Linked DNA regions of Homo sapiens: region 2 is linked to region 1. Evidence: fine-mapped expression QTL. A gene starts in region 1. The other region holds a variant in brackets. All regions are shown on one strand. Distances are from middle to middle.

Region 1 (15,898 bases):
AGCCGGGCGCGGTGGCGGGTGCCTGTAGTCCCAGCTACTCGGGAGGCTGAGGCAGGAGAATGGCGTGAACCCGAGAAGCGGAGCTTGCAGTGAGCCGAGATTGCGCCACTGCAGTCCGCAGTCTGGCCTGGGCGACAGAGCGAGACTCCGTCTCAAAAAAAAAAAAAAAAAAAAGAAAATGTGGCACATATACACCATGGATTACTATGCAGCCACAAAAAATGATGAGTTCATGTCCTTTGCAGGGACATGGGTGAAGCTGGAAACCATCATTCTCAGCAAACTATCACAAGGACAAAAAACCAAACACCGCATGTTCTCACTCATAGGTGGGAATTGAACAATGAGAACACATGGACACAGGAAGGGGAACATCACACACCGGGGCCTGTTGTGGGCTGGGGGGAGGGGGGAGGGATAGCATTATGAGATATACCTAATGTTAAATGACGAATTAATGGGTGCAGCACACCAACATGGCACATGTATACATATGTAACTAATCTGCACGTTGTGCACATGTACCCTAAAACTTAAAGTAAAAAAAAAAAAAGAAAAAAACAAGTAATGAGATTAAAGCCATAGTAAAAAGTCTCCCCAGTGATAACGGTTTGGCTCTTTGTCCCCACGCAAATCTCATCTTGTAGCTCCCATAATTCCCACATGTTGTGCGAGGGACCTGGGGGAAGATGTTTGAATTATGGGGATAGGTCTTTCTCATGCTGTTCTTGTCATAGTGAACCGGTCTCATGAGATCTGATGGTTTTAAAGATGGGAGTTTCTCTGCACAAGCTCTCTCTCTCTGTTTGCCTGCTGCCATTCATATAAGGTGTGACTTGTATCTCCTTGCCTTCCACCATTATTGTGAGGTTTCCCCAGCCATGTGGAACTGTTAAGTCCAATTAAACCTCTTTCTTTTGTAAATTGCCCAGTCTCAGTCTGGGGTATGTCTTTATCAGCAGTGTGAAAACAGACTAATACACCCAGTAACGAAAAAGTCCAGGACCCCATGGCTTTACTGCTAAATTCTACCAAACATTTAAAGAGAACTAATACCCAAATCCTACTCAAACTATTCCAAAAAACAGAAGGAAGGAATACTGCCAAACTCATTCTATGAGGACAGTATTATTTTGATACCAAAACCAGACAAAAACACACTAAAAAAAAACTATAGGCCAATTTCTATGATGAATATTGATGCAAAAATCTTCAGCAAAATACCAGCAAAACCCAATTCAATGATACATCAAAAAGATCATTCATCATGACCAAGTGGGATTTATCTTTGGGATGCAAGGACAGTTTAACATATGCAAATCAATCAATGTGATATATCATGTCAACAGAAAGACAAAAACCATATGATCATTTCAATTGATGCTGGAAAAGCATTTGATAAAATTCAACATCTCTTTCTTGATAAAAACCCTAAAAAACTGGGGTAGAAGGAACATACCTCAACATAATAAAACCCATATTGACAGACCCACAGCTAGTATCATACTGAATGGGAAAAAAAATTGAAAGCCTTTTCTCTAAGATCTGGAACATAATATGGCCGGCCACTTTCACCACTGTTATTTAATACAGTACTGGAGCTCTTAGCTAGAGCATCCAAAGAAGAGAAAGCTATAAAGTGCCTCCAAGTTGGAAAGGAAGAATTAAAATCATCCTTGTTTGCAGATGACATTATCTTATATTTGGAAAAACCTAGACTCCACCAAAAAACTATTCATACTAATAAATAAATTCAGTAAAGTTGCAGGATACAAAATCAACATGGAAAAATCAGTAGCATTTCTATATGCCAACAGTGAGCAATCTGAAAAAAAAAATAAAAATGTAATCCCATTTACAATAGCCACAAACGAAATAAAATACCTAGGAATTAACCAAAGAAGTGAAAGACCTCTATAATGAAAACCACAAAGGACTGATGAAATAAATTGAAGGGGACACCAGAAGATGGAAAAATATCCCTCGTTCAGGCACTGGAAAAATCAATATTGTTAAAATGCCCATACTACCCAAAGCAATCTACAGATTCAATGCAATTCCTATCAAAATACCAATGACAATCTTCATAGAAATAGAAAAAAAGTACCCTAAAAGGGATATAGAACCACAAAAGACCCAGAATAGCTAAAGCGATCCTGAGCAATAAGAATAAAAGTGGAGGAATCACATTACCTGACTTCAAATTATACTGCAGAGCTATAGTAACCAAAACAGCATACTACTGTCATAAAAACAGACACATAGATGAATGGAACAGAATAGAGATCCCGGAAAGAAATGCATACGCCTACAGTGAAATCATTTTTGATAAAGGTGCCAAGAACATATACTGTAAAGACAGTACCTTCAATAAATGGTCCTGGGAAAACTGGATACCTATATGCAGAAGAATGAAACTAGACCCCTATCTCTCATCATGTACAAAAATCAAATCAAAATGGATTAAAGAATTAAATCTAAGACCTCAAACTATAAAACTACTACAAGAAAACTTTGGGAAAACTCTCCAGAACATCAGTCTGGGCAAAAATTTCTTGAGTAATACCCCACAAGCACAGGCAACCAGAGCAAAAATGGACAAATAGCATCACATCAAGTTAAAAGGCTTCTGCACAGCAGAGGAAACAATCAACAAAGTTAAGAAACAACCACAGAATGGGTAAAAATGTTTGCAAACTACCCATCTGACAAGGAATTAATAACCAGATGTATAAGTATCTCAAATAGTTCTATAGGAAAAAATATAATAATCTGAATTTAAAATGGGCAGGCCGGGCACGGTGGCTCATGCCTGTAATCCCAGTACCTTGGGAGGCCAAGGTGGGTGGATCACGAGGTCAAGAGATCGAGACCATCCTGGCCAAAATGGTGAAACCCCATCTCTACTAAAAATACAAAAATTAGCTGGGCATGGTGGCATGCGCCTGTAGTCCCAGCTACTCGGGAGGCTGAGGCAGGAGAATCGCTTGAACCCAGGAGGTGGAGGTTGCAGTGAGCCGAGATTGCGCCACTGCACTCCAGCCTGCTGACAGAGCAAGACTCCGTCTAAAAAAAAAAAAAAAAAAAAAAATATATATATATATCTGAATAGACATTTCTCAAAGGAAGACATACAAATGACAAACAGGCATATATAGGTGCTCAACGTAATGAATCATCAGAGAAATGCAAATCAAAACTACAATGAGATATCATCCCTTCTCAGTTAAAATGGCTTATGTCCAAAAGACGGGCAATAACAATTGCAGGTGAAGATGTGGAGAAAAAAGAACCCTCGTACACTGTTGGTGGGAACGTAAATTACTACAACCATTGTAGAGAACAGTTTGGAGGTTCCTCAGAAAACTGAAAATAGAGCTACCCATGTGATCCAGCAATCCTACTCTGGATATATACCCAAAAGAAAGGAAATCAGTATATTGAAGAGACATCTGCACTCCCATGTTTGTTGCCACTCTGTTCACAATAGACAAGAGTTGGAAGAAGCCTGTGTCCATCAACAGATGAATGGATAAAGAAAATGTGGTACTTATACACGATGGAGTACTACTCAGCCATAAAAAATAATGAGATCCAGTCATTTGCAAAAACATGGATGGAACTGGCGATCATTATGTTAAGTGAAGTAAGCCAGACATAGAAGGAGAAACCTTGCATGTTCTTATTTATTTGTGGGGTCTAAAAATCAAAACAATTTAACCTGTGGAGATAGAGAGTAGAAGGATGGTTACCAGAGGCTGGGAAAGGAATTGGGGAGGGTTGGGGAGAGATGGGGGATGGTTAACCAGTACAAAAAATAGAATGAAACGGACCTAGTATTTGATAGCACAACAGGGTGACTATAGTCAATAATAACTTAATTGTATATTTTAAAACAACTAAAAGAGTATAATTGGATTTTTTTGTAACAGAAAGGATAAATTCTTGAGGAGATACCCATTTTCCACGATGTGATTGATATGCATTACATGCCTGTATCAAAACGTCCCATGTACCCCATAAATACATACACCTACTGTATACCCACAAAAAATAAAAATAAAATAAACAATTATTTTAAAAAGAAGAGTAATTGAACCTCTGATTATAAAATTTCAAGTTTTATGCAATTACCAGGCTCTACCATCTTAACAAGCCCTGTTTTGGGGCAAAGTGTATAATAATAAATTAGATCTAGATTATATCATCTTTTGAATTGAGGGTGCTTTTTGTGTGCCATAATTCTCTTCTCTTTTTGTATTGGGAGAAATATTAAATAGGTGGAAACCAACCCAGATCCTGAACTTAAATCATGTAGGACTTTGGTCACTGAAAACATAAACAATTAATAGCTGCTGGCCAGGCGCGGTGGCTCACGTCTGTAATCCCAGCACTTTGGGAGGCTGAGGCGGGCGGATCACAAGGTCAGGAGATCCAGACCATCCTGACTAACACGGTGAAACCCCGTCTCTACTAAAAATTCAAAAAATCAGCCAGGCGAGGTGGCGGGCGCCTGTAGTCCCAGCTACTCGGGAGGCCGAGGCAAGAGAATCGCTTGAACCTGGGAGGCAGAGGTTGCAGTGAGCCGAGATTGCACCACTGCACTCCAGCCTGGGCGACGGGGCGAGACTTCGTCTCAAAAAAAAAAAAAAAAAAAATAGCTGTTATACTATTGAGATGTTCTGATCCCACATCAGGATTGTAAATCCCTATGGTTGATATGAACTCTAAGATATGATCATGCTGTTATCCCTAGGGTAACTTGTTCTATTGATCAAATTGCTTGGGTCAATAAATTATAACACACTTTTATGAATAACTAGTCTAGTCCGGGTTTTAATCATTCAGAGGTTGTACGGTGCTCTGAAGTTACCCCAACTGAAATTTTTAGCCCAGTAGATTAAATATTATTCCTTTAAATAGTTAATGTTTTTTGTGTGTGGCCTAATTAAGCTCCATTGGGTCGTCTTGTTTTATCGCCGCATGAGAATCACTAAAGTTAGAGACTGACCATACCAAGCACTGACGAGGTTGTGGAGGATGAAGCTCTGCTGAGACAATGAAAAATGGTACAACCACTTTGAAAACAGTTTGGCAGTTTCTTACAATGTTAGTCTTACATCTATAACATGTTCCAGCCACTGCAATCCTAAGTATTTACCCTAGAGAAAGAAAGCACATTTCTCTGTAAAGACTCATACACAAGATCCCCTAAATTGAATACAACCCAAATATCCATTAGCAAGTGAATGGACAAAACGAATTGTAGTATATCCTATACTGTAATGCTACTCTGTAATAAAAAAAAAAAAACTATTGAAATAGGCAATAAAATGGACAAATCTAAAAATACATAGAGTGAATGAAAGAAGCCAGATCCCTAAAAAAAAAAAATAAAAAAAAAACCTCTATGATTATTTTTAAATAAATGAAATCTAATCTATAATGACAAAAGTGCTGTATTTGTCTGGAGACAGGACAGTGGGAGGAATGGGTAGGCTGGGTACAACAGAACTGAAAATGTTATGTCCTTGAAAATAATAACAATGATATATAAGCCTATACGGTTCCTTTAGGGGACATGGCAGGGTATCATTAGAATAGGGCAAACTAGATACTGAAGGACCAAGAGGGCAGAGTAGGAGATATCAGCCTTCATCACCCCCTGCCACAAAAAAACAAGTGTAGACAGCTATCCACAAACTAAAGTATTCATGGGAGGGCTCAGGGGCCCATTTAAGAATCTGCAGCAACACAGTAGAAAAAAAAATGGGGAATATCCACACAGAAAATATTGCTGGTGAGATCAGTATACTTGAGGTGCCAGGAGATGTCTAGGAGCAAAGAAGAAAGGCAAAGGCTATTGCTATTAGCCATGTGGCAGGAATCACCATGGTCCCCAGCAGTCTGCTCTGGAGAGGACACTGGCATCTTTCGCCACTGAGATAACCAACAGCCATTCCTGCCCAAGGAACCCCAGAGAGGGAGAAGTGGCTACACACTTCTCATCTCAAGAAGCAGCAGCTATTATACCACTCTGGGACCAGAGGTGCCACCTGTCCCAATGCTGCATGTGTCACTGACCCCCCCAAGCTACAACTACTCTGTAAATACCCATACTCCAGACCCCAGCTCTGTGCCTGACTGTGCCTGCCCATGCCTCAGACACCAGAGCCACTGCCATAGAGACCTAGCAAAACACCTTCACTCTTCAGATAACTCCCTGAGAAAACATACCAATTAGAGGAACTAGGCTGGGATCCGGGCCCCTAAGCCAAGGTCACTTTGCACATGTCTGTACTCCAGACACTAGATTAACATCCATTGAAGGCTAGCCCATACTCCAGACCCTGGATAGGAAGAATAATCTCTAGTGTTCTATAGCATTATACTAAATTATCAAACAATAATTTAATGTATTTTTTCAAATAGCTAGAAGAGAAAATGTTGAATGTTACCAGCACATATAAATGATAAAGATTTGAGATGATGGATATGCTAACTACCCTGATTTTATCACTACACATTGTATACATATATTGAAATATCACAGTGTACCCCCATAAATATGTACAATAATCATGTGTCCATATATAATAAAATATACATTTTTCAAAGTAAGACATACAAGTGGCCAACAGATATGTGAAAAAATTCTCAATATCACTAATTGTCAGGGAAATGCACATTAAAACCATAACAAGATATCACCTCACACTTGTTAGGATGGCCATTATTTAAAAAAACAGAAGATGGTAAGTGTTCACAAGGATGTGGAAAAAAATGGAACCCTTGTACAATACTGGGAATGTAAATTTATACAGATATTACAGAAACAGTATGGTCATTCCTGAAAAAAACTAAAAATAGAATTACCAAATGATCCAGCAGTCCCCCTTCTGAGTATATATCCAAAGGAAATGAAATTAGTACCTCAAACAGATGTATGTACTCCCATGTTCACTGCAGCATTATTCACAATAGCCAGGGTATGGAATCAACCTAAGTATCCACCAACAGATGAATAAAGAAAATGTCATACATGCACACAATGGCGTACTATTCAGCTTTTTGAAAAAAGAAGGAAATCCTGTCATTTGTGACAACATGGATGAACCTGGAGGACATTAAGTGAAATAAGCCAGGCACAGCAAGACAAATACCACGTAATCTCACTTGTATATGGAATCTAAATAAGTTGAACTCATAGAAGCAGAGAGTAGAACAGTAATTACCAGACAGAGGCTGGGGAGGGGTTTGGGGAGATGTTGGTCAATGGATACAAAATTTCAGTTAGAGAGGAGGGATAAATTCAAGGGATCTATTGTACATCATAGTGACCATGGTTAATAAAAATATATTGTACACTTGAAAACTGCTAAAAGGGTAGATTTTAAGTGTTCACCACAAAAAAAAGTACATTAGGTAATGCATAGGTTTATTAGCTTGATTCAGCCATTCTACAATGTATAAAATATATCAAAACATCATATGACTTTTTAATTGACACTTTATAAGTTATAGTTCATAAACAAATTTATTATACAACAGATATGGGAGAATGCATATTATAATCTCAAATTGGTAGGAAGGCCTTCTAACTAACTTTATATTTCAACATTCATTTGATAGTGTTGATGGGAATCACTGGTTATTATTTATGCAGTCAGAAATATATATATAAACTTATCATAAATGCATGTTAAACATAAAGTTTCTCCCTTGTCTATACTGTAAGAAAGTTTGAAACAGAACAAGAAGAGGCCTGACTTCATACAGGCATTCCTGATCCTGCAATAACCACAGGGCTATCGTCTTGCACCTATGTTATCACTGAAGGTTTCAGCAATCCTGTGGGTGAGCATTTTTATTTCCATTTTACAGAGTGGGAAACTGGGCTCAGAGAGGGTCTTTACCTGTCTCATCCTCCCGCGTCCCGCCTTTACAGGGAAAGTAGCCCCGGGACACCCTGGAGCAGGACACCACACTCACTGGGGCCAGAAGAGACCCACCTCTCTCTCCTTCACGAAACAGCCAGAGCGCCGATCCCCAAAGTGGGAACGAGGGGACGTCGATCTGGGGTCCTTTCGTCTCCCTAAACCCCACGGAGATTCAGGCCACACTGCTGGGCACTCACAACCTCCACTGAGTCCAAACGCCTGAAGGCGGTTCTCCCCAGGCCAAATTGGTCTCAATAAAAAGTCGTCACCGTCGCTAATATGACGTCAGGTTACTATGGCAACCGCGTAGCACTGGCTTGTCTTCCACACCTGAAAATGACTATGCACAACCCGCTCCTCCATCCCCAGCCTATCCCTTAAAGCAAAACACCTTCATTCTTCAGATAACTCCCTGAGAAAACATACCAATTAGAGGCTGGGATCCGGGCAATTTTCAAGACTCTCTACTCATTATGGTAGAGGAAAGGAAGTCCATGTTGTCAGGAATTTTGCTTTAAAAGTGACCTAAGGGGGCCGGGCGCGGTGGCTCATGCCTGTAATCCCAGTACTTTGGGAGGGCGAGGCGGGAGGATCACGAGGTCAGAAGATCGACACCATCCTGACTAACACGGTGAAACCCCATCTCTACTAAAAATACAAAAAATTAGCCGGGCGTGGTGGCGAGCGCCTGTAGTCCCAGCTACTCAGGAGACTGAGGCAGTAGAACGGTGTGAACCCGGGAGGCGGAGCTTGCAGTGAGCCGAGATTCTCAAAAAAAAAAAAAAAAAAAAGTGACCTTAGAGGAGTATCATCAGTACACAGAAGCCCAGAGAGGTGTCCTAGGACTCTGGGAGATGAGCTAGCCCTCTGAGGAGGAACATGTACAACTCACACACTATACTAGGCAGTTGGTTTTCTGTGGCAGAAAACAGATTGTTTATAATCAAGTGACTGAATGATCTAGAAACACAAAAACTGTCATTTGAGTAATAATACAGTTATTTCAGGGAGGCCGGACTAGAATAATATAATCATTTAGTAGGCAGGAATCCAGTCAATTAAAACACACAGTAGTTTGCCTTAAGGAAATTTTTTTTTTTTTTTTTTTTTTTGAGACGGAGTCTCGCTCTATCGCCCAGGTTGGAGTGCACGGCGCAATCTCAGCTCACTGCAACCTCTGCCTCCCAGGTTCAAGCGATTCTCCTGCCTCAGCCTCCCGAGTAGCTGGGATTACAGGCGCTTACCACCACACCCAGCTAATTTTTATATTTTTAGTAGAGACAGGGTTTCACCATGTTAGTCAAGCTGGCCTCGATCTCCTGACCTCGTGATCCACCCGCCTCGGCCTCCCAAAGTGCTGGGATTACAGGCGTGAGCCACCGCACCCAGCCCTGCCTTAAGGAAATTCTTATCCTTCATTCCTGGTATGTTTTTCCATGTGGAAAATACATCCATGACAAAAATACATGTAGCCTCTACACACTCACTCCTCTCTACGGCAGGAATGACTTATCCGATTGGAGAATCTGGAAGGAGACACATGATACTCTGCCCAAGCCCTCTCCCTTCAACTTCTTGGTAGTAAGCTGCCCTTCAGGAGGCACTTGTTCAGCTTTGCCTTCAGGGATGGGACTTAAAATAGGCCCACAGGTTTACTCCTCTAACTGTGTCTCACTGACTCTACAATTATTCCTATAGTTCTTGATTCACAATGCTTAATTCTTTAAGGGGCCCCCAAAATACTCTTCTGCTTCTAGTCTGAGCTCTAAACCAACTGAGAAACATAGGAAAAGAATAAGGAGAAACATATATTGACTTTATCTCTTATAAGGTGATATTGGAGAATGTGACTTAGATTTGCTGTCACGTGGGCTTACTATGAGTAAGTTCTAGAATTGACTTATCCACCCAGCAGTGCTGCATTGGGACAGTCATAAAGACCAAGGACTGCAATGTATATCTATCTGCTGTCTCCTAAAGGAGCCCTGTCTATGTGTGCCCAAGGAAAGTTACTTCCTTGCCAAGGGTTATCACTATAGCAGGAGAAAGTGTTTCAGGACACTTTCTTTGAGAAACACTTCTAAAATTGTTCAGAATGAATACTCACTAAGACAACCTCTCAGGTTTCCTCATAGAATGGTTTGTAGCAATGCCCTCTCAGTATCTTAATTCACATGATTGCAGTGGGAATTCTTCTTAAGGAGTTAGGTTTCAAATTTTAAGACTAGCATGAAAAATAGATATCATGTAAATTGCCCTTGGGAATCCCTTCAAGAAGGAATTGATGACATGTTCAGAAATCTGTACCCACATGTAAGCCAACACTCAGATGATACAATTATAACCAAGTTTCACTAAGCCTTCAAGGATAAGAAAATTCCTTTCTTACCCAATGATAACACAACACAGAAAATGAGGAAAAGTTCACCAAAACCATAATGTTTTAGATATCCGTTCCTTCTTAACAAGCACCCTTAATTAATAGCCATTTATTTTCTCTCAGTATTTTGTGTGTTAACTGGGCCCAGCTGGATGTTTTCTGCTCTATATGATGTCTGTCACCTGGGGCTGCAGTCATCTGGAGGTTCCACTCATCTGGGACATCTGAGAGAGCTCACTCACATGAATGATGACTGGTGTTGGCGTCTGCTGGGAGCTCAGTTAAGGCTGTTGACCTGAGCATCTTGGCTCTCCACAGAGCCCTCCACGTGTACAGTTACCAGATTAAAATCAACTCAGTTAACTTTAAATTCCGGATTAATAGGAATATTTTTTAGTTTATGTGGCATGCAATATTAGTTTATTTAAAATTAAAATCCAACTGGATTTTAATTAAATAAATAAAAGTAAATGAAATAAATAACAAAATAAAAATTTTAAATCGTCTTATTATTTGCTAAATCTGGCAATTGCAGGGGATGACCCTGTGAATCTCTAAGTTTAATGACCATCTGAGCTGATTCTTCCAATGGGACAGGTCTGGGGAAAATGAGCAGATTGGATTGGCAATAAGGACAAAAGTTGGTAATACTTGGTGTTGGTGGAATGAAAAGCCAGCAGACGCTCACATATACTGTTGGTGCCAAGTGGATATATCTGTTTTCCAAGGCTCATATTATAACTTAAGACATTAATGATCTTTGATGCCAAAGTCCTATTTTTCCACCAACAAGGGAGTTTCAGCTGAGGGTTTAGAAAAGACTCATCAAGGTGACTACGATGTGCGCCCTCTTAAGGGGCCCTGGCTGAGGTGGCAGCTCAGAGTAACATGAGTTCCCTGCTTGGAGGAGGAAAAGACAGCTACTATTTTGTAAGGCAGATGGTTTAGCTGGGCCCAGCTCCAGTTTCTTCACATTAGTGTCTGGATTTAATCTCATGACAGCCGTGCTGGTGAGGTACCAGTATCCTCTCTTCCTCATGGATGTCAGTGACTATAAAGCACGTGCTCCTAAACACAGAGCTGAATGGCAAGGAGGTTACTCACCAGGCCCACTGCCAGAGCCAGGGATAGAACCTGCCAGCCTGGGCACCTTGAGTTGCTAGTGGTAGACCTTTAGCAAATGTATCTGGACATGTACTGTTAAGGAGGTTAATCTCTGTTCTCCTTGCTTACCCTCCCTGCAGTAAGGTTGGTGCCCCCTCTCCTTACTTCAGGGGAGGTTTGTGAGAGGGCTGACAGCAGAAGCCTTCTGGAGCCAGTTTTTCTTTCATCCTTTATGAAAACTTAATTTGTTGAAAGGACCGGGCTGCTTGTACCTGGTAGGGATGTGGGGGCCTCTCAGGACACAAAGATGGGAGAGGAAGGAAGATTTCTCCCAGACAGGGATGAGGCCTGAGGTCTACAAATCTCTCCAGGAGTTGGGACCTGAGCATTGCTCTGTATCAATGTTTGTGGTGAATTAGTGGATGGTCCTTCGAGTCTGGGCATCCATCCATGATTCAGATTTGATTTTCCTGTTTTGATCCAGGGGTAGATGACTCAGGATCTGGGACATGAAGGCACTGGGCCAACTAAGGAAATGGTCATCTCAGCCCTGAGCAGTGTGGACACGAGTGGTTACAGCAGGAGACTCTTGAGGCCATATCAGGAGGATACATTCCCAGAAGTGGAACTGTTTTGTCAAAGAGCATGACCATTTAATATTTTTAATGCTTCCTATATAGTTGAACTTTAAAATTTCTTTAATAGTTCTTATATTCCATCCAACAATTTGAAAACATCTGTTTTTCCTGATCTGTGCAAAAATAGGTTTCACAGATTTTTAATATTTTTTATTCTGAGATCCTGTTATTGGTACATTAGATTTTCTTTATTTTTCCCTATCGTATTATGTTTTAAATAGTGTATTTCACAGGTGCATTAAAAATGCTTAGCTAATGGTTCCATATTATACCTTAGAATATGTCTTGGAATAATTCTAGAGTTTGAAAAGAAAACCCAATCATCGAATTTGTGTTTATGTTGCATCCTGTTTGAATTGAAATGTTGGGGCCACGAGAAGCCCATACATAGCTTGGAGCGGACAAATTGGTACAACTTCTTTGTGGAGATATTGAGCAGCACCCACAATAGAAGCATGTGAGGCTCTGTCATCTGCTGCCCTCTCAGATGTGCATTGCAGAGTCTCGGTACATAGCAAACCTGTTCACAGGAGCATGGGTAAATATCAAAATAGTCCCAAAGTCACCTGGTTAGAAACATCTCAGAAACACTATTTTCAGAAGAAAACATTTCGATAATAGATATATAAATATGTTACTTATATAGAGATAAAAATATGCAAAGCAATTATGTGTTTAGTTTAGGGATGTATTCATGACTAAACAAGAAATTTTGGATAGTGGTTCCTTCTGAGGGCGCTGAGGCAATCAGGGAACTCACACAGGAGAGTCCACTCTGTAATGTTTTGCTTCATAACCTTGGTTGTGTACGTGTTTGCCTACTATCATATTTACAATACCTTTTGAAAAGTCTGAAATCTATCAAATTTGACATGAACAAAGCTCTAATGTGTTTTATCTCTGATTAATAAGTAACCCACTGTCTATTTAAAAAATGTGGAAAGTGCATTCAAATACCAATATGAATATTGATAATATCTAACCCCACCATGCACTAATAAAAACTGTAATTATGTTTCCACCAATTATCATCTATACACATGTGTACATGTAAACAAAAATACTGTGTATGCATTGAATAGATTTAACTTAACTGGAATGTATTAATTTATTGTAGGTGTGTAACCAGACTTAGTGTCTGAAAGCTACATCCATCTAGTAGCTCACAGGTCTGTAGGTCAGAAGACTGGTCCAGCATGACCTTATTCTCTGCTCAAGGTCTCACAAAGCTAGAATCAAGGTGCCCATGTTGGCTCCACTGAGGTCTCACGCGGATGATCTAGATAAAAATCTGCTTCCAAGATCATTCTTGCTGCTGGCAGAAGTCATTTCCTTGTGGCCATTGAACCGCAGTCCCCATTTCCTTGATGACTGTCAGTTGGGGATATTCTTAGCTCCTGGGGGCTAGTCCACTTGCCTGCCATGTGGCCTCCTTCTTCCATCCAGCAATGGCACATTGAAGGCTTCCTGTGCTTTGAATCTCTGACTTGCCCTACTCTAAACAGCAGGAGAAAATTCTCTGATTTTACAGGGCTTGACTAATTAGGTCAGGCCTATGCTGATCATCTCCCTTTTGCCATATAACAGAACATAATCGTGGATCATAATGTGTCTGGTCTTATGACTCTAGTCTTCCGTCCAGTATTCTTGTCATATTGCCCTGTGGTGTCCCTTCTACCTTAAAGTTAATGGGAAACTGCTCCTCCAGTGTCAAACTGAATGATAAATTAAGAGGATAGGAAGGCAGATGCAGTTATAGGAAATGGTATGGTGATTTATTTTTCCTTTTCCCCAGCTCTCACATGTAACTCATCCCACAACTCAGAACTGGCCCAAAGCTCATAGGTTATGGGGATATATTTCAGCTCTTGCTGCTACCTTTCCACAAGGTCTCAATAGCAGTAATGCCCTTTGGTTTAGGTCAATGTCATCTACTCTCTGGGAGGGAGGGGGCAAATAGCCAGACCTGTTATGTGCTGAAGTCCTACTATCTCCCATAGGCACTTGACAGGTTTTCTCATTTATCCCTCAGGACAGTACTCTGAAGAAGATAATGTGGTGCGTCTTATTTCACAGATGACCAAGCTCCTTCTCAAAGGGACTAAGACCCTCTCCAGAGAAGTGGCAGAAATGGAATGTGATTCCATTCTTTCCCTCCCCACAATAAAACCAGCAGCTTCCCATTTGGAAGTTTTACATTTCCCTAGTATTGTCCCCTAAAGGTACTCACTCAATAACCCCTCATGTTGAGGAAGATGATAGTGGAGATGAAATCTTGTTTTCTGGCCCATGAAACCTAGCTGTGAAGTTACATGTACCGGCAGGTCCTTAGGGTCCCTCTTAGGCCCACTTCTTTTGTCTGAATGTTTGTGTCTCCCACACATTTATATGTTGAAACCTAATAATCTTTAGGAGGTAGTTAGGCCATGAAGGCAGAGCCCTCATAAATGGGATTAGTGTCCTTATCAGAGGCCTGAGAGAACCTGTTTGCCACTTCACCATGTGAGCATGCAGCAAGAAGGTGTCATTTATGATGCAGACGGAGTCTTTACCACACTACAAATATTCTGGCATCTTGATCTTGGACTTCCTAGCCTCCAGAACTTTGAGTAATACATTTCTGTTGTTTACAAATTACCCACTTTCAGGTATTTTGTTATGGCAGCTCAAGTGCACTGAGGCACCCACTGACCCCACTCCACTGACATCAGACCTGGGCATGTGACTAGATGTGGCCAGTGAGCTATGAGGGGAAATGGAGTGTGCCCCTCCCAAGCAGAAGTGATAAGGGCCATCTAGGAGTCCCACCAGCACACTTTGACCTTCTGCCTCAGCAATGTCCCAGATTTCCTATGAGATAGTTTAATTCATTTAATCCTTCAGCAGCACTAGAATATGAGAACTTATATGATGGCAGAAATGCTTGGAAAGAGACAAGCCAAATGATTTATACCCAAAATTGGCCTGCTAGAAGATCCCCTCAACTCACATGCCCTAACACCAAGTCTGTAGCCAGGAGAAGGTATATGTTTTACCCACATCACACAGAAAGCAGTTTGTCAGGCTCTGGAAGCGACATCTTCTGCCTTTCACTCCATTGCTCTCTCCAGAAGACCCATCCTCATGCTCTGCTCTTCCCTGGGCATGTGTCTTTATGGAGCCACAGGAACAACCCAGATAACCAGTCAATGGCCACTCCTGATGTTCACTCTCCAAGGGGGGCCCAAAGAGGTCAGGAAAGGTACACTGATTCTAAAGAAATGGGGTGACATTTCCCCATGCCACCTACAATGCACGATGCCACAACACAGAAGAGGCACCAACTCTTACACATAATGTGGGTCTGTGTGAGTTTATTTTTCTTTCTGTTGCCTTGCTTTCAGAAGCTCTTTAGAACACAATTATGCTGCTTAGCACTATGTAGTTTAGGTTAAAGTCATCTCAGAAGCAGAAGTTAGAAAGGGGGATGGAAAGAAAACTAACATTTCAAGGGCCTACAATGGGCCAGACACTGTGTTAGGCACTTCACATACTGTTTCTCTAAGTCCTTACAACTGTTCTGTAAGTTAGGTATCAATATTCCCTGCTTAAACTTATTCCTCCCCAGAAGCAGGCTCTCCTAAGGCTAATGGAGGTTAAATATATTTTACAAGGACACACGCCCAATAAGAGGCAGCATGGTTATTTGAATCCAGGGTGGTCAGACCCCAACCTTGGGTTCCACCATGAACCTTTGCAGATAGGTGTGGGTAGTAACATTTGCCCTGTTCTAGAGCAGGTTTTCTCAACCTCAGCACTATTGACATTTTGGGCTGGAGAGTTCTTTGCTGTGGGGG
Region 2 (15,898 bases), 580 kb after region 1:
CCTATGGCCATGTACCATGCCTAGCCCATTAATAGAAACTTCTGAACTGGATCTAATCTTTTAGCCCTCTGTAAATTCAGACCTACAGATGCAGAAAATTGTCAGAACTGTAGTCCATGCTCAGGCAAAACTTTGATCGGACTGTGGCTCAGATCCCAACCTTTCTACCAAATTTTACATCCTGCCTCAGTGGACAGTACTTGGGTATCAGGAGTGATAGCAAATATTAGAAGTTTACTCAGCAAATTGGACACTGAGGGAGCCAAATGGGTCCAAGTGGCAGAGGGACACAGAGGGTTGGTGGAGGGAGGGAGACTTCCTCAGGGTTTGTGGACAAATTTGGCAGATTCAGTGTCTGATAAGGGCCCTGGCTGTTATTGGTAGAGAGGGATGTGGTGTTAGCGGGGGGAAACACTATGAGAGGTATAGGTCATGGACTTGTAGATCATCTGTCTGTGGCAGGGCTCTGGAAGGCTGGTAATTAGTTAAGTCTGAATTAATGTCAATTTACTTTTGGCTACCTCCTTAGTGATTAGGACACAGAATGTGGAGTGAGACTGACAGAGACAAATCATCATTTCACTATATACAAGCTCGGTGACCACTTAGCTAAGTGACCTAATACCTCTGTGCTTCAACTGTCCTCATCTGTAAAATTGGAATAATAATAGGGACACCATACCCTACCCCTCTCCCATCCCTGCAATAAAGCCCGGTACTTGCCTACCCCCCTGCCATATTAACTGTCTGTGGAGATTAATTATCATAATCACCTGTATGTGATGTATCAATTTCCTCCTCCCCTGTTTACACTCCCATAAATGTGTGATGACCTGCTCTGCTCCTCTTCTGCCTATGTTTTTGTTAAGGACATCAGAGATTTTCTAGATGCCAATATGTACAGCATATCCTAAATCAGCTTAATTTCTCTCTTAATTGATTTTGTAATGATTATCTTTATACCCTTATTAATTCTCCCAGTAAACATTCTAAACATGTGCTCAGGGAACAAGCATAACAGAGAGAGTGAAGGAAAAGGAAGAGAAAGGAGAGAAAGGAAGGAAATGAAAGGAAAGGAGGAGACAGGTGATGTGTGTTTTAGTTTTTAAAGAATTTGATATTTTGATAAAAGTGAGAAAGTTGCAATCATGCAAAGATTCAGAATTGATTTCTTGTATTTATGTTGCAGGTTAGTACTTTTACAAAGTATATTTGGGGGTAGAACATAACAATGCTTTGTGCTTAGGATCAGTAAATGGTTTAAACCAATGCAGCCAGATACTATTCCTTTCTAGCTTACCGCCTGTATTAGTCTGTTTTCACACTGCTATAAAGAAATTCCTGAGGGAGGAGGTTCCAAGATGACCGAATAGGAAGAGATGCAGTCTACAGCTCCCAGCGTGAGTGATGCAGAAGACGGGTGATTTCTGATTTCTGCATTTCCAACTGAAGTACCAGGTTCATCACACTGGGGCTTGTTGGACAGTGGGTGCAGCCCACGGAGTGTGAGCTGAAGCGGGCGGCGGGGGCGGGGCATGGCCTCACCCGGGAAGTGCAAAGGGTCGGGGAATTCCCTTTCCTAGCCAAGGGAAGCGGTGACAGATGGTACCTGGAAAATTGGGACACTCCCACCCTAATGCTGCTCTTTTCCAATGGTGTTAGCAAATGGCACACCAGGACATTATATCCTGTGCCTGGCTCGGAGAGTCCCACACCCAAGGAGCCTTGCTCACTGCTGGCACAGCAGTCTGAGATCAAACTGCAAGGAGGAAGTGAGGCTGGGGGAGGGCGTCCACTATTGCTGAGGCTTGAGTAGGTAAACAAAGCGGCCAGGAAGCTCGAACTGGGTGGAGCCCACCGCAGTTGAAGGAGGCCTGCCTGCCTATGAAGACTCCACATCTGGGGGCAGGGCATAGCTGAACAAAAGGCAGCAGAAACTTCGGCAGACTTAAACATCCCTGTTGGACAGCTTTGAAGAGAGTAGTGGTTCCCTCAACAGCGAGTTTGAGATCTGAGAACAGAGAGGCTGCCTCCTCAAATGGGTCCCTGACCCCAGAGTAGCCTAACTGGGAGACACTCCAAGTAGGGGCCAACTGACACCTTATACAGCCGGGTGCCCCTCTGAGACAAAGCTTCTGGAGGAAATATAAGGCAGCAACATTTGCTGTTCTGCAATATTTGCTTTTCTCCAGCCCTGGCTGGTGATACCCAGGCAAACAGGGTCTGGAGAGGACGTCTAGCAAACTCCAGCAGACCTGCAGCTGAGGCTCCTGACTGTTAGAAGGAAAACTAACAAATGGGACATCCACACCAAAACCCCATCTGCAGATCACCATCATCAAAGACCAAAGGTAGATAAAACCACAAAGATGGGGAGAAACCAGAGCAGAAAAGCTGAAAATTCTAAAAATCAGAGCACCTCTTCTCCTCCAAACGAACGCAGCTCCTCACCAGCAACAGAACAAAGCTGGATGGAGAATGACTTTGACAAGTTGATGGAAGTAGGCTTCAGACGATCAGTAATAACAACCTTCTCCAAGCTAAAGGAGGATGTTTGAACACATTGCAAAGAAGCTAAAAACCTTGAAAAAAGATTAGACAAAAGGCTAACTAGAATAAACAGTGCAGAGAAGAACTTAAATGACCTGATGGAGCTGAAAACCATGGCATGAGAACTATGTGACGCATGCACAAGCTTAAGTAGTTGATTTGATCAAGTGGAAGAAAGGGTATCAGTGATTGAAGATAAAGTGAATAAAATGAAGCAAGAAGAGAAGTTTAGAGAAAAAAAGAGTACAAAGAAACGAACAAAGCCTCCAAGAAATATGGGACTATGTGAAAAGACCAAATCTATATCTGATTGGTGTACCTGAACGTGACAGGGAAAATGGAACCAACTTGGAAAACACTATTCAGGATATCATTCAGGAGAACTCTCCCAACCTAGCAAGGCAAGCCAACACTCAAATTCAGGAAATACAGAGAACACCACAAAGATACTCCACAAAAAGTGCAACTCCAAGACACATAATTGTCAGATTCACCAAAGTTGAAATGAAGGAAAAAATGTTAAGGGCAGCCAGAGAGAAAGGTCAGGTTACCCACAAAGGGAAGCCCATCAGACTAACAGCTGATGTCTCAGCAGAAACTCTACAAGCCAGAAGAGAGTGGGGGCCAATATTCAACATTCTTAAAGAAAAGAATTTTCAACCCAGAATGTCATATACAGCCAAACTAAGCATCATAAGTGAAGGAGAAATAAAATCCCTTACAGATAAACAAATACTGAGAGATTTTGTCACCACCAGGCCTGCCCTACAGGAGCTCCTGAAGGAAGCACTAAACATGGAAAGGAACAAATAGTACCAGCCACTGCAAAAACATGCCAAATTATAAACACCATCGATGCTAGGAAGAAACTGCATCAACTAACAAGTAAAATAACCAGCTAACATCATAATGACAGGATCAAATTCACACATAACAATATTAACCTCAAAGGTAAATGGGGTAAATGCTCCAATTAAAAGACACAGACTGGCAAATTGGATAAAGACTCAAGTGTGCTGTATTCAGGAGACACATCTCATGTGCAGAGATGCACACAGACTCAAAATAAAGGGATGGAGGAAGATCTACAAAGCAAATGGAAAACAAAAAAAGGCAGGGGTTGCAATCCTACTCTCTGATAAAACAGACTTTAAACCAACAAAGATAAAAAGAGACAAAGAAGGCCATTACATAATGGTAAAGCGATCAATTCAACAAGAAGAGCTAACTATCCTACATATATATGCACCCAATACAGGAGCACCCAGATTCATAAAGCAAGTCCTTAGAGACCTACGAAGAGACTTAGACTCCCATACAATAATAATGGAAAACTTTGACACCCCACGGTGAACATTAGGCAGATCAACGAGACAGAATGTTAACAAGGAGATCCAGGACTTAAACTCAGCCCTGCACCAAGTGGACCTAATAGACATCTACAGAACTATCCACCCCAGATCAACAGAATATAGTTTCTTCTCAGCACCACATCGCACTTATTCTAAAACTGACCACATAATTGGAAATAAAGCACTCCTCAGCAAATGTAAAAGAACAGAAATTATAACAAACGGTCTCTCAGACGACAGTGCAATCAAACTAGAACTCAGGATTAAGAAACTCACTCAAAACCGCTCAACTACATGGAAACTGAACAATCTGCTCCTTAATGACTACTGGGTACATAACGAAATGAAGGCAGAAATAAAGATGTTTTTTGAAACCAATGAGAACAAAGACACAACATACCAGAATCTCTGGGACACATTCAAAGCAGTGTGTAGAGGCAAATTTATAGCACTAAATGCCCACAAGAGAAAGCAGGAAAGATCCAAAACTGACACCCTAACATCACAATTAAAAGAACTAGAAAAGCAAGAGCAAACACATTCAAAAGCTAGCAGAAGGCAAGAAATAACTAAAATCAGAGCAGAACTGAAGGAAATAGAGACACAAAAAACCCTTCAAAAGATTAATGAATCCAGGAGCTGTTTTTTTGAAAGGATCAACAAAATTGATAGACCGCTAGCAAGACAAATAAAGAAGAAAAGAGAGAAGAATCAAATAGATGCAATAAAAAATGACAAAGGGCATATCACCACCTATCCCACAAAAATACAAACTACCATCAGAGAATACTACAAACACATCTATGCAAATAAACTAGAAACTCTAGAAGAAATGGATAAATTCCTCAACACATGCACTCTCCCAACACTAAACCAGGAAGAAGTTGACTCTCTGAATAGACCAATAACAGGCTCTGAAATTGTGGCAATAATCAATAGCTTACCAACCAAAAAGAGTCCAGGACCAGATGGATTCACAGTCGAATTCTACCAGAGGTAGAAGGAGGAGCTGGTACCATTCCTTCTGAAACTATTCCAATCAATAGAAAAAGAGGGAATCCACCCTAACTCATTTTATGAGGCCAGCATCATCCTGATACCAAAGCCGGGCAGAGAAACAACCCAAAAAGAGAATTTTAGAACAATATCCTTGATGAACATTGATGCAAAAATCCTCAATAAAATACTGGCAAACTGAATCCAGCAGCACATCAAAAAGCTTATCCACCATGATCAAGTGGGCTTCATCCCTGGGATGCAAGGCTAGTTCAATATATGCAAAACAATAAATGTAATCCAGCATATAAACAGAACCAAAGACAAAAACCCCATGATTATCTCAATAGATGCAGAAAAGGCCTTTGACAAAATTCAACAACGCTTCATGCTAAAAACTCTCAATAAATTAGGTATTGATGGGACGTATCTCAAAATAATAAGAGCTATCTATGACAAACCCACAGCCAATATCATACTGAATGGGCAAAAACTGGAAGCATTCCCTTTGAAAACTGGCACAAGACAGGGATGCCCTCTCTCACCACTCCTATTCAACATAGTGTTGGAAGTTCTGGCCAGGGCAATTAGGCAGGAGAAGGAAATAAAGGGTATTCAATTAGGAAAAGACGAAGTCAAATTGTCCCTGTTTGCAGATGACATGCTTGTATATCTAGAAAACCCCATTGTCTCAGCCCAAAATCTCCTTAAGATGATAAGCATCTTCAGCAAAGTCTCAGGATACAAAATCAATGTACAAAAATCAGAAGCATTCTTATACACCAATAACAGACAAACAGAGAGCCAAATCATGAGTGAACTCCCATTCACAATTGCTTCAAAGAGAATAAAATACTTAGGAATCCAACTTACAAGGGATGTGAAGGACCTCTTCAGGGAGAACTACAAACCACTGCTCAATGAAATAAAAGAGGATACAAACAAATGGAAGAACATTCCATGCTCATGGGTAGGAAGAATCAATATCGTGAAAATGGCCATACTGCCCAAGGTAATTTATAGATTCAATGCCATCCCCATCAAGCTACCAATGACTTTCTTCACAGAACTGGAAAAAACTACTTTAAAGTTCATATGGAACCAAAAAAAAGCCCGCATCACCAAGTCAATCCTAAGCCAAAAGAACAAAGCTAGAGGCATTGCGGTACCTGACTTCAAACTATACTACAAGGCTACAGTAACCAAAACAGCATGGTACTGGTACCAAAACAGAGATATAGATCAATGGAACAGAACAGAGCCCTCACAAAAAACGCTGCATATCTACAACTATCTGATCTTTGACAAACCTGACAAAAACAAGCAATGGGGAAAGGATTCCCTATTTAATAAATGGTGCTGGGAAAACTGGCTAGCTATATGTAGAAAGCTGAAACTGGATACCTTCCTTACACCTCCTACAAAAATTAATTCAAGATGTATTAAAGACTTAAATGTTAGACCTAAAACCATAAAAACCCTAGAAGAAAATCTAGGCATTACCATTCAGGACACAAGCATGGGCAAGGACTTCATGTCTAAAACACCAAAAGCAATGGCAACAAAAGCCAAAATTGACAAATGAGATCTAATTAAACTAAAGAGCTTCTGCACAGCAAAAGAAACCACCATCAGAGTGAACAGGCAACCTACAAATTGGGAGAAAATTTTCAAAACCTACTCATCTGACAAAGAGCTAATAGCCAGAATCTACAATGAACTCAAACAAACTTACAAGAAAAAAACAAACAACCCCATCAAAAATGGGCAAAGGATATAAACAGACACTTCTCAAAAGAAGACATTTATGCAGCCAAAAGACACATGAAAAAATGCTCATCATCACTGACCATCAGAGAAATGCAAATCAAAACCACAATGAGATACCATCTCACACCAGTTAGAATGGCAATCATTAAAAATTCAGGAAACAGCAGGTGCTGGAGAGGATGTGGAGAAATAGGAACACTTTTACACTGTTGGTGGGACTGTAAACTAGTTCAACCATTGTGGAAGCCAGTGTGGTGATTCCTCAGGGATCTAGAACTAGAAATACCATTTGACCCAGCCATCCCATTACTGGGTATATACCCAAAGGACTATAAATCATGCTGCTATGAAGACACATACACATGTATGTTTATTGCGGCACTATTCACAATAGCAAAGACTTGAAACCAACCCAAATGTCCAACAATGATAGACTGGATTAAGAAAATGTGGCACATATACACCATGGAATACTATGCAGCCATAAAAAAGGATGAGTTCATGTCCTTTGTAGGGACATGGATGAAATTGGAAATCATCATTCTCAGTAAACTATCACAAGGACAAAAAACCAAACAC[T/C]GCATGTTCTCACTCATAGATGGGAATTGAACAATGAGAACACATGGACACAGGAAGGGGAACATCACACTCTGGGGACTGTTGTGGGATCGGGGGATGGGGGAGGGATAAAATTAGGAGATATACCTAATGCTAAATGACAAGTTAATGGTTGCAGCACACCAGCATGGCACATGTATACATATGTAACTAACCTGTACATTGTGCACATGTACCCTAAAACTTAAAGTATAATAATAATAAAAAAAAGAAACTGCATCAATTAACAGGCAAAATAACCAGTGAACATCATCATGACAGGACCAAATTCACACATAACAATATTAACCTTAAATGTAAATGGGCTAAATGCTCCAACTAAAAGACACAGACTGGTAAATTGGATAAAGAGTCAAGACCCATCAGTGTGCTGTATTCAGGAGATGCATCTCACATGCAAAGAGGCACATAGGCTCAAAGTAAAGGGATGGTGGAAGATTTACCAAGCAAATGGAAAGCAAAAATAGAAGGGGTTGCAACCCTTGTCTCTGATAAAACAGACCGTAAACCAACAGACATCAAAAGGGACAAAGAAGGCCATCACATAATGGTAAAGGAATCAATTCAACAAGAAGAGCTAACTAACCTAAATATATATGCACCCAATACAGGAGCACCCAGATTCATAAAGCAAGCCCTTAGAGACCTAAAAAGAGGCTTAGACACCCAAACAATAATAATGGGAGACTTTAACACCCCACTGTCAATATTAGACAGATCAACGAGACAGAAGGTTAACAAGGATATCCAGGACCTGAACTCAGATCTGCAAAAAGCAGATCTAATAGACATCTACAGAACTCTCCACCCCAAATCAGCAGAATATACATTCTTCTCAGCACCACATCACACTTATTCTAAAATTGACCACATAATTGGAAGTAAAGCACTCCTTGGCAAATGTAAAAGAACAGAAATCACAACAAACTGTCTCTCAACCACAGTGCAATCAAATTAGAACTCAGGATTAAGAAACTCACTCAGAACCACACAACTACGTGGAAACTGAACAACTTGCTCCTGAATGACTACTGGGTAAATAACAAAATGAAGGCAGAAAGAAAGATGTTCTTTGAAACCAATGAGAACAAAGACACAATATACCAGAATCTCTGGGACACATTTAAAGCAGTGTGTAGAGGGAAATTTATAGCACTAAATGCCTACAAGAGAAAGCAGGAAAGATCTAAAATCGACACCCTGACATCACAATTAAAATAAATATAGAAGCAAGAGCAAACACATTCAAAAGCTAGCAGAAGGCAAGAAATAACTAAAATAAGAGCTGAACTGAAAGAGATAGAGACACAAAAAAACCCTTCAAAAAATCAATGAATCCAGGCGCTGGTTTTTTGAAAACATCAGCAAAACTGATAGAGTGCTAGCAAGACTAATAAAGAAGAAAAGAGAGAGGAATCAAATAGATGCAACAAAAAATGATAAAGGGGATATCACCACCGATCTCTCAGAAATACAAACTACCATCAGAGAATACTATAAACACCTCTACGCAAATAAACTAGAAAATCTAGAAGAAATGGAAAAATTCCTGGACACATACACTCTCACAAGACTAAACCAGGAAGAAGTCAAATCTCTGAATAGACCAATAACAGGCTCTGAAATTGAGGCAATAATTAATAGCCTACCAACCAAAAAAAGTCCAGGACCAGATGGATTCACAGCAGAATTCTACCAGAGGTACAAGGAGGAACTGGTACCATTCCTTCTGAAACTATTACAATCAATAGAAAAAACACATGAAAAAATGCTCATCATCACTGGCCATCAGAGAAATGCAAATCAAAACCACAATGAGATATCATCTCACACCAGTTAGAATGGCGATCATTAAAAAGTCAGGAAACAACAGGTGCTGGAGAGGATGTGGAGAAATAGGAACACTTTTACACTGTTGGTGGGACTGTAAACTAGTTCAACCATTGTGGAAGTCAGTGTGGCGATTCCTCAGGGATCTAGAACTAGAAATACCATTAGACCCAGCCATCCCATTACTGGGTATATACCCAAAGGACTATAAATCATGTTGCTATAAAGACACATGCACACGTATGTTTATTGCGGCATTATTCACAATAGCAAAGACTTGGAACCAACCCAAATGTCCAACAATGATAGACTGGATTAAGAAAATGTGGCACATATACACCATGGAATACTATGCAGCCATAAAAAATGATGAGTTCATGTCCTTTGTAGGGACATGGATGAAATTGGAAATCATCATTCTCAGTAAACTATCGCAAGAACAAAAAACCAAACACCGCATATTCTCGCTCATAGGTGGGAATTGAACAATGAGATCACATGGACACATGAAGGGGAATATCACACTCTGGGGACTGTTGTGTGGTGGGGGGAGGGGGGAGGGATAGCATTGGGAGATATATCTAATGCTAGATGACGAGTTAGTGGGTGCAGTGCACCAGCATGGCACATGTATACATATGTAACTAACCTACACAATGTGCACATGTACCCTAAAACTTAAAGTATAATAAAAAATAAAAATAAAAAAAAGAAAAAGAGGGAATCTTCCCTAACTCATTTTATGAGGCCAACCTCATCCTGACAACAAAGCCTGGCAGAGACACACACACAAAAAAGAGAATTTTATACCAATATCCCTGATGAACATCCATGCAAATATCCTCAATAAAATACTGGCAAACTGAATTCAGCAGCACATCAAAAAGCTTATCCACCACGATCAAGTCGGCTTCATCCCTGGGATGCAAGCCTGGTTCGACATATGCAAATCAATAAATGTAATTCATCACATAAACAAAACCTTTGACAAAAACCACATGATTATCTCAATAGATGCAGAAAAGGCCTTTGACAAAATTCAACAGCCCTTCATGCTAAAAACTCTCAATAAACTTGGTACTGATGGAACGTATCCCAAAATAATAGAGCTATTTATGACAAATCCACAGCCAATATCATACTGAATGGGCAAAAACTGGAAGCATTCCCTTTGAAAACTTGCCCAAGACAAGGCTGCCCTCTCTCACCATTCCTATTCATTGTGGTGTTGGAAGTTCTGGCCAGGGCAATCAGGCAAGAGAAATAAATAAAGGGTATTCAATCAGGAAAAGAGGAAGTCAAATTGTCCCAGCTTGCAGACAGCATGATTGTATATTTAGAAAACCCCATTGTCTCAGTCCAACGTCTCCTTAAGCTCATAAGCAACTTCAGCAAACTCTCAGGATACAAAATCAATGTGCAAAAATCACAAGCATTTCTATACACCATTAACAGACAAACAGAGAGCCGAATCATGAGTGAACTCCCATTCACAAATGCTACAAAGAGAATAAAACACCTAGGAATCCAACTTACAAGGGATGTGAAGGACCTCTTCAAGGAGAACTACAAACCACTGCTCAATGAAATAAAAAAGGACACAAACAAATGGAAAAAATATTCCATGCTCATAGATAGGAAGAATCAATATCCTGAAAATGGCCATACTGCCCAAAGTACTTTATAGATTCAGTGGCATCCCCATCAAGCTACCAATGACTTTCTTCACAGAATTGGAAAAAACTACTTTAAAGTTCATATGAAACCAAAAAAGAGCCCGCAATGCCAAGTCAATCCTAAGTCAAAAGAACAAAGCTGGAGACATCATGCTACCTGACTTCAAACTATACTACAAGGCTACAGTAACCAAAACAGCATGATACTGATATCAAAACAGATATATAGGCCAATGGAACAGAACAGAGGCCTCAGAAATAACATCACACATCTACAACCATCTGATCTTTGACAAACCTGACAAAAACAAGAAATGGGGAAAGAATTCCCTATTTAATAAATGGTGCAGAGAAAACTGACTAGCCATATGTAGAAAGCTGAAACTGGATCCCTTCCTTACACCTTATACAAAAATTAATTCAAGATGGATTAGAGACTTAAATGTTAGACCTAAAACCATAAAAATCCTAGAAGAAAACCTAGGCAATACTATTCAGGACATAGGCATGGGCAAGGACTTCATGTCTAAAACACCAAAAGCAATGGCAACAAAAGCCAAAATAGACAAATGAGATCTAATTAAACTAAAGAGCTTCTGCACAGCAAAAGAAACTACCATCAGAGTGAACAGGCAACCTACAGAATGGGAGAAAATTTTTGCAATCTACCCATCTGACAAAGGGCTAATATCTACAAAGAACTCAAACAAATTTACAAGAAAAATACAAACCCATCAACAAGTGGGCGAAGGATATGAACAGACACTTCTCAAAAGAAGACATTTATGCAGCCAACAGACACATGAAAAAATGCTGGTCATCATTGGCCATCAGAGAAATTCAAATCAAAACCACAAAGAGATACCATCTCACGCCAGTTAGGATGGCAATAATTAAAAAGTCAGGAAACAACAGATGCTGGAGAGGATGTGGAGAAATTGGAATGCTTTTACACTGTTGGTGGAAGTGTAAATTGGTTCAACCATTGTGGAAGACAGTGTGGCGATTCCTCAAGGATCTAGAACTAGAATTACCATTTGACCCAGCAATCGCATTACTGGGTATATACCCAAAGGATTATAAATGATGCTACTATAAAGATACATGCACATGTATGTTTACTGAGGCACTATTCACAATAGCAAAGATTTGGAACCAACACAAATGTCCATCAATGATAGACTGCATTTAGAAAATGTGGCACATGTACATATGTGGAATACTACGCAGCCATAAAAAAGGATGAATTCACGTCCTTTGCAGGAACATGGATGAAGCTGGAAACCACCATTCTCAGCAAACTATCACGAGGACAGAAAACCAAACACCGTGTGTTCTCACTCATAGTTGAACCCCCAAAATAATGAGGACATGATTTTTTTCACCCAGTTTGGTTCTATCCCATAAGTAAGTTTCTATTTTCCCCTGTCCATTCTAAATCCAAAACTTCCGAACCTAATTTTTTTCCTAATTTTCTAGATTGCTGCTTGACTGCTGCAGTTGGCCTGAGAATGATGGGTGAACCTCCACAGTCTCTAAAAATAAACCCAAGTCCCTGTGGACCAAGAACATTTTTATCATTTGTGATGCTGAGTCAGCTGATATTCATAACCTGGCAGTTGGAGCCCCAGACTAGGAGTGACTCCTAGAATCACTTGAAAGAAAGAGAAATCCCGTGGAAGCTGAGACCTGTCCTTAGCTGAATGCCTGTTGGCACAAAGTTGATATTCACAATATCAATTTTCAACCAATCCCCATTTTTCATACTGCTTCAAACCAGACACTAGGACAGGAGTTGAGAACTCTTACTATTGCTGTATCCTTGAAAATTTAAGGGAAATATGGTGCTAGAAATGGAGTTTTGTCTTCTCTTCATCTGCAATTCAGTGAATTTCTGACTTCCAGAAGCCCTTATATTCATTCTCTGGATAATCCCACAAAGAGTTTTCACCGTCCGTCAAGAAAATGATTTTTCAATGGAGAAAATAATGCTAGTGACTGTAGTTTAATGAGATCCCCCCTCCTCCACCAGATTACTTAAGGCTGTACATCTGCTGCCTGAACCCTGAAGGCCAGGTGGTGATCCAAGGCCATGCATGGTGCCCAGCTTAGAAGCCGAGGTGTCCCTGAGAATCAAAACATCAAAACATCCCAGAGCATACCGGGAAACATACCAAGAAAAAGAGTCTCATTGCATGTGGAAGGCAAGAGCCAGAAAATTAGCTTAAAAGCAGTTTGCAGAGGAGTGTCAGGGCAGATCCCCGGAGCTGTCCTGCTGCCACCCAGGAATGTCCTATCCGTAAGTCCCAATAAATTCATCTGCTTATCAAGCTGAACTTGTCTGGGTCATTCTTTGGTCTCTTAGCTCCTTCGCAGTTTTGGGGAGGCATTATTCTATACAGTACCAGTATTTTCCCTTATCAGTACCTGATGCCCTGATTCTGGCTCAGGCCAGCATACTGAAGAATGATCAGCCAGTGAAGGGAAACCGGAGGGCCCACTGGATTCTCATTCAGCTAGTTAGGGGATGAGGGTGTAGAACCTGGCTTCAGCTAGAGCACAGGAGGAACTGAAATTTTCTTGCAGCTCAGAAGTTTATTAGTGAAGGGGATTGGGCCAGTTGGTGTTTACATGCTTGACCCCTGCATCCCTGTGTCCTGGCTGTAGTGAGGAGGTGATGTCATTCCAGAAACATACTGACCTTTCTCTCCTGTTGCCATGGCTGGGGTGCAGCACTATCTGTTTCTTGTGCTTGAGCTGGATGGATGATGTTTTTTAGGATCTCAGCATAGTACGGGCCAAATACCTGCTGATTATGATACTTCAGAATGACAAACTTCCAACCCAGTTCTGCCAGCTCCCCTTCAATGAGAATGAGGCCTCCAGGAAAGTGTAGCAGAGACTCCTGCATGCCATGAAGCAAACAGCATTTAAGAAACAAACAGATCCGCTGATCCGTGAGCAGGGAAAAACAATGAAGAGAGGAAAAAAGAGGGTTCAGAATAAATTCTTTTTTTTGTTGTTCTCATTTTTCTTTTCTTTTTTTAAATTATACTTTAAGTTCTAGGGTACATGTGCACAACGTGCAGGTTTATTACATATGTATACATGTGCCATCTTGTTGTGCTGCACCCATTAACTCATCATTTACATTAGGTATATCTCCTAATGCTATCCCTCCTCCCTCCCCCAACTCACAACAGGCCCCAGTGTGTGATGTTCCCCTTCCTGTGTCCAAGTGTTCTCATTGTTCAATTCCCACCTATGAGTGACAACATGCGGTGTTTGGTTTTTTGTCCTTGCGATAGTTTGCTGAGAATGATGGTGTCCAGCTCCATCCATGTCCCTACAAAGGACATGAACTAAAGAAATTCACAATGTCTTTGCACTATCTGCTCACCAAAGTTTTACGTTAACCAGTTTATTCACTGACCTCTCCGCTCATTTGGGTAAACCGTATAAGTTAGATTTTTGTTTGTTTTGGGGAAGTGAATGCCATCAGGCTCCCAAAGGACAGTGCATGATCAAAAGATGCTGAGGTAGTAAATTCCTGGCGGTTCATAAGATTACTTTATGTAGCTGTACGTGAGATCCAAGTGCACGTTTAACTTAACAAGAGGACCGTAGACCCGGTACGTGAAAGTAACAATATGTGTTGCAGCCAGTGCACCAAGTTCAGGCCTATACACCCAATCCAGACTATGATCAGATGCTAAAGTTCAAAGCAAGCTGTCCAAGTTCACTGCTTCCATTCCAGCACGGAACATGTCCTACAGCCTAACTCAACATCACTTCCATGGAGAGGAGTAGGGGCCCACATGGTGGCTTAAAGCATAGGATAGAGAAAGGGTTTCTACATATATCTTGGCGGACAGTTAGAAAATGACCAGGAATGACTTCATAGGATTAGTGCGACAGTATCCAACACCCATGAATGACATATCTTGGGTACAGAGCCACCTTCAAACCATACATGCATTGTTCAAATTGAAAAAGATCTATTTGAACCATGCACATTATAGATGAGGAAACTAAAGCTAAAAAAATTTCCAAGTGATCATGCCTTTCATTTTTAAATGGCTAGGTAACTCACATTCAGGGTAAGGTCTACCTGCCCACCTCCCACATTCTTGCCACTTTTCTGCACCATGACCATGGGGATTCTTACCAACGATGCTACGAATGCCACTCTCTTCCTTGGTGATGTTCTGGAGTTGGCCTAGAAGAGATGCTGTGTTTTCACTGCTCAGAGTAGTGAGGCCCATGTCCTTAAGGCCTTGATAGATTTCCTGAGACACCTGTTCATTCACACTCAGCATAGCTTCTTTAGGCTTAGATAATGAAGGAGAGAATGCAGAGTGGGCCTGGCAGAGGGGCAAAGCCCAGAGAGCCTCATACTACAAGCCAGGCCTATTCCAGGAAGAATTCCATCTCTCTGCCACCAGAAGACAGCATTAGCCACTGGGCCAGTGAAATATACTCATTGTTACCCGCAAGGTACCACCTGATCCCAACATACAGTACCATATGCCACTTCAACAAAAACAAAGTAAATTGGGCAAGGGTTCAGTTCCATCCTTGGATCTACTCAGCATTTTCCAGTCCCATCAACTGTATTTAAATATTGTTTTAAGACTCTATTGGATATTTTTCATGGTTTTTCTCCTACCCCACCAATTAAATTGCAAATATATTAAGAGGCTTGGACTTCCTACTCCTCCTTGTACTTTGATATAATATCCCTGCCCCTACATGCAGTGAATGGTCAATATCACTGACCAACTGATCAACTTCTGGATATACATAGCAGAAATCCACTGTCATTCAATCAAGTATATAATGACTCATTTTTAGCAAACACATAAGGAATATTTTTAGCAAACTGGCTTCCACACTCTCCTCTTTGGAAAAATAAATTTTATTTTCTGTATCCCAAACCTCAATACAACTTATCGAAGATACCAAAATCTTTGGAGATGGTTCCCAAGGGCCTTTGTGTCATTTGTGATGAAGTATAAGCAATAGTAGTATTGATATTACCTGCCTATGTCCCAAATACCACACATTTTCCTTTGTAACAGAGATCTATGAATCTTACCTGGAGAT

Alleles and levels. Positions count from the first base shown, and alleles are read on the strand shown. Sizes are in standard deviations (SD) of each study's normalised expression.
For the expression in tibial nerve of the gene that starts at base 8,201 in region 1, C is the low allele of the variant in region 2 and T is the other (large effect, 0.83 SD a copy in GTEx).

Evidence for each region. PIP is the estimated chance that this variant, and not a neighbour inherited with it, causes the effect.
Region 2: its variant is fine-mapped to the expression of LINC00630 in tibial nerve (GTEx, PIP above 0.99).

The regions. Positions count from the first base shown.
Region 1 is chrX:102,761,456-102,777,353 of GRCh38, reverse strand. LINC00630 (long intergenic non-protein coding RNA 630) reads right to left here and starts at 8,201. Exons shown (of 12, transcript NR_146589.1): 1 at 8,013-8,201. The region is part of intron 8 of ARMCX5-GPRASP2 (ARMCX5-GPRASP2 readthrough); the gene reads right to left.
Region 2 is chrX:102,182,656-102,198,553 of GRCh38, reverse strand. It overlaps the pseudogene TCP11X3P. Among named protein-coding and RNA genes, the nearest start is that of TCP11X1, 25 kb to the left of the region's middle. The variant T/C (reference allele first, on the strand shown) is at 7,248.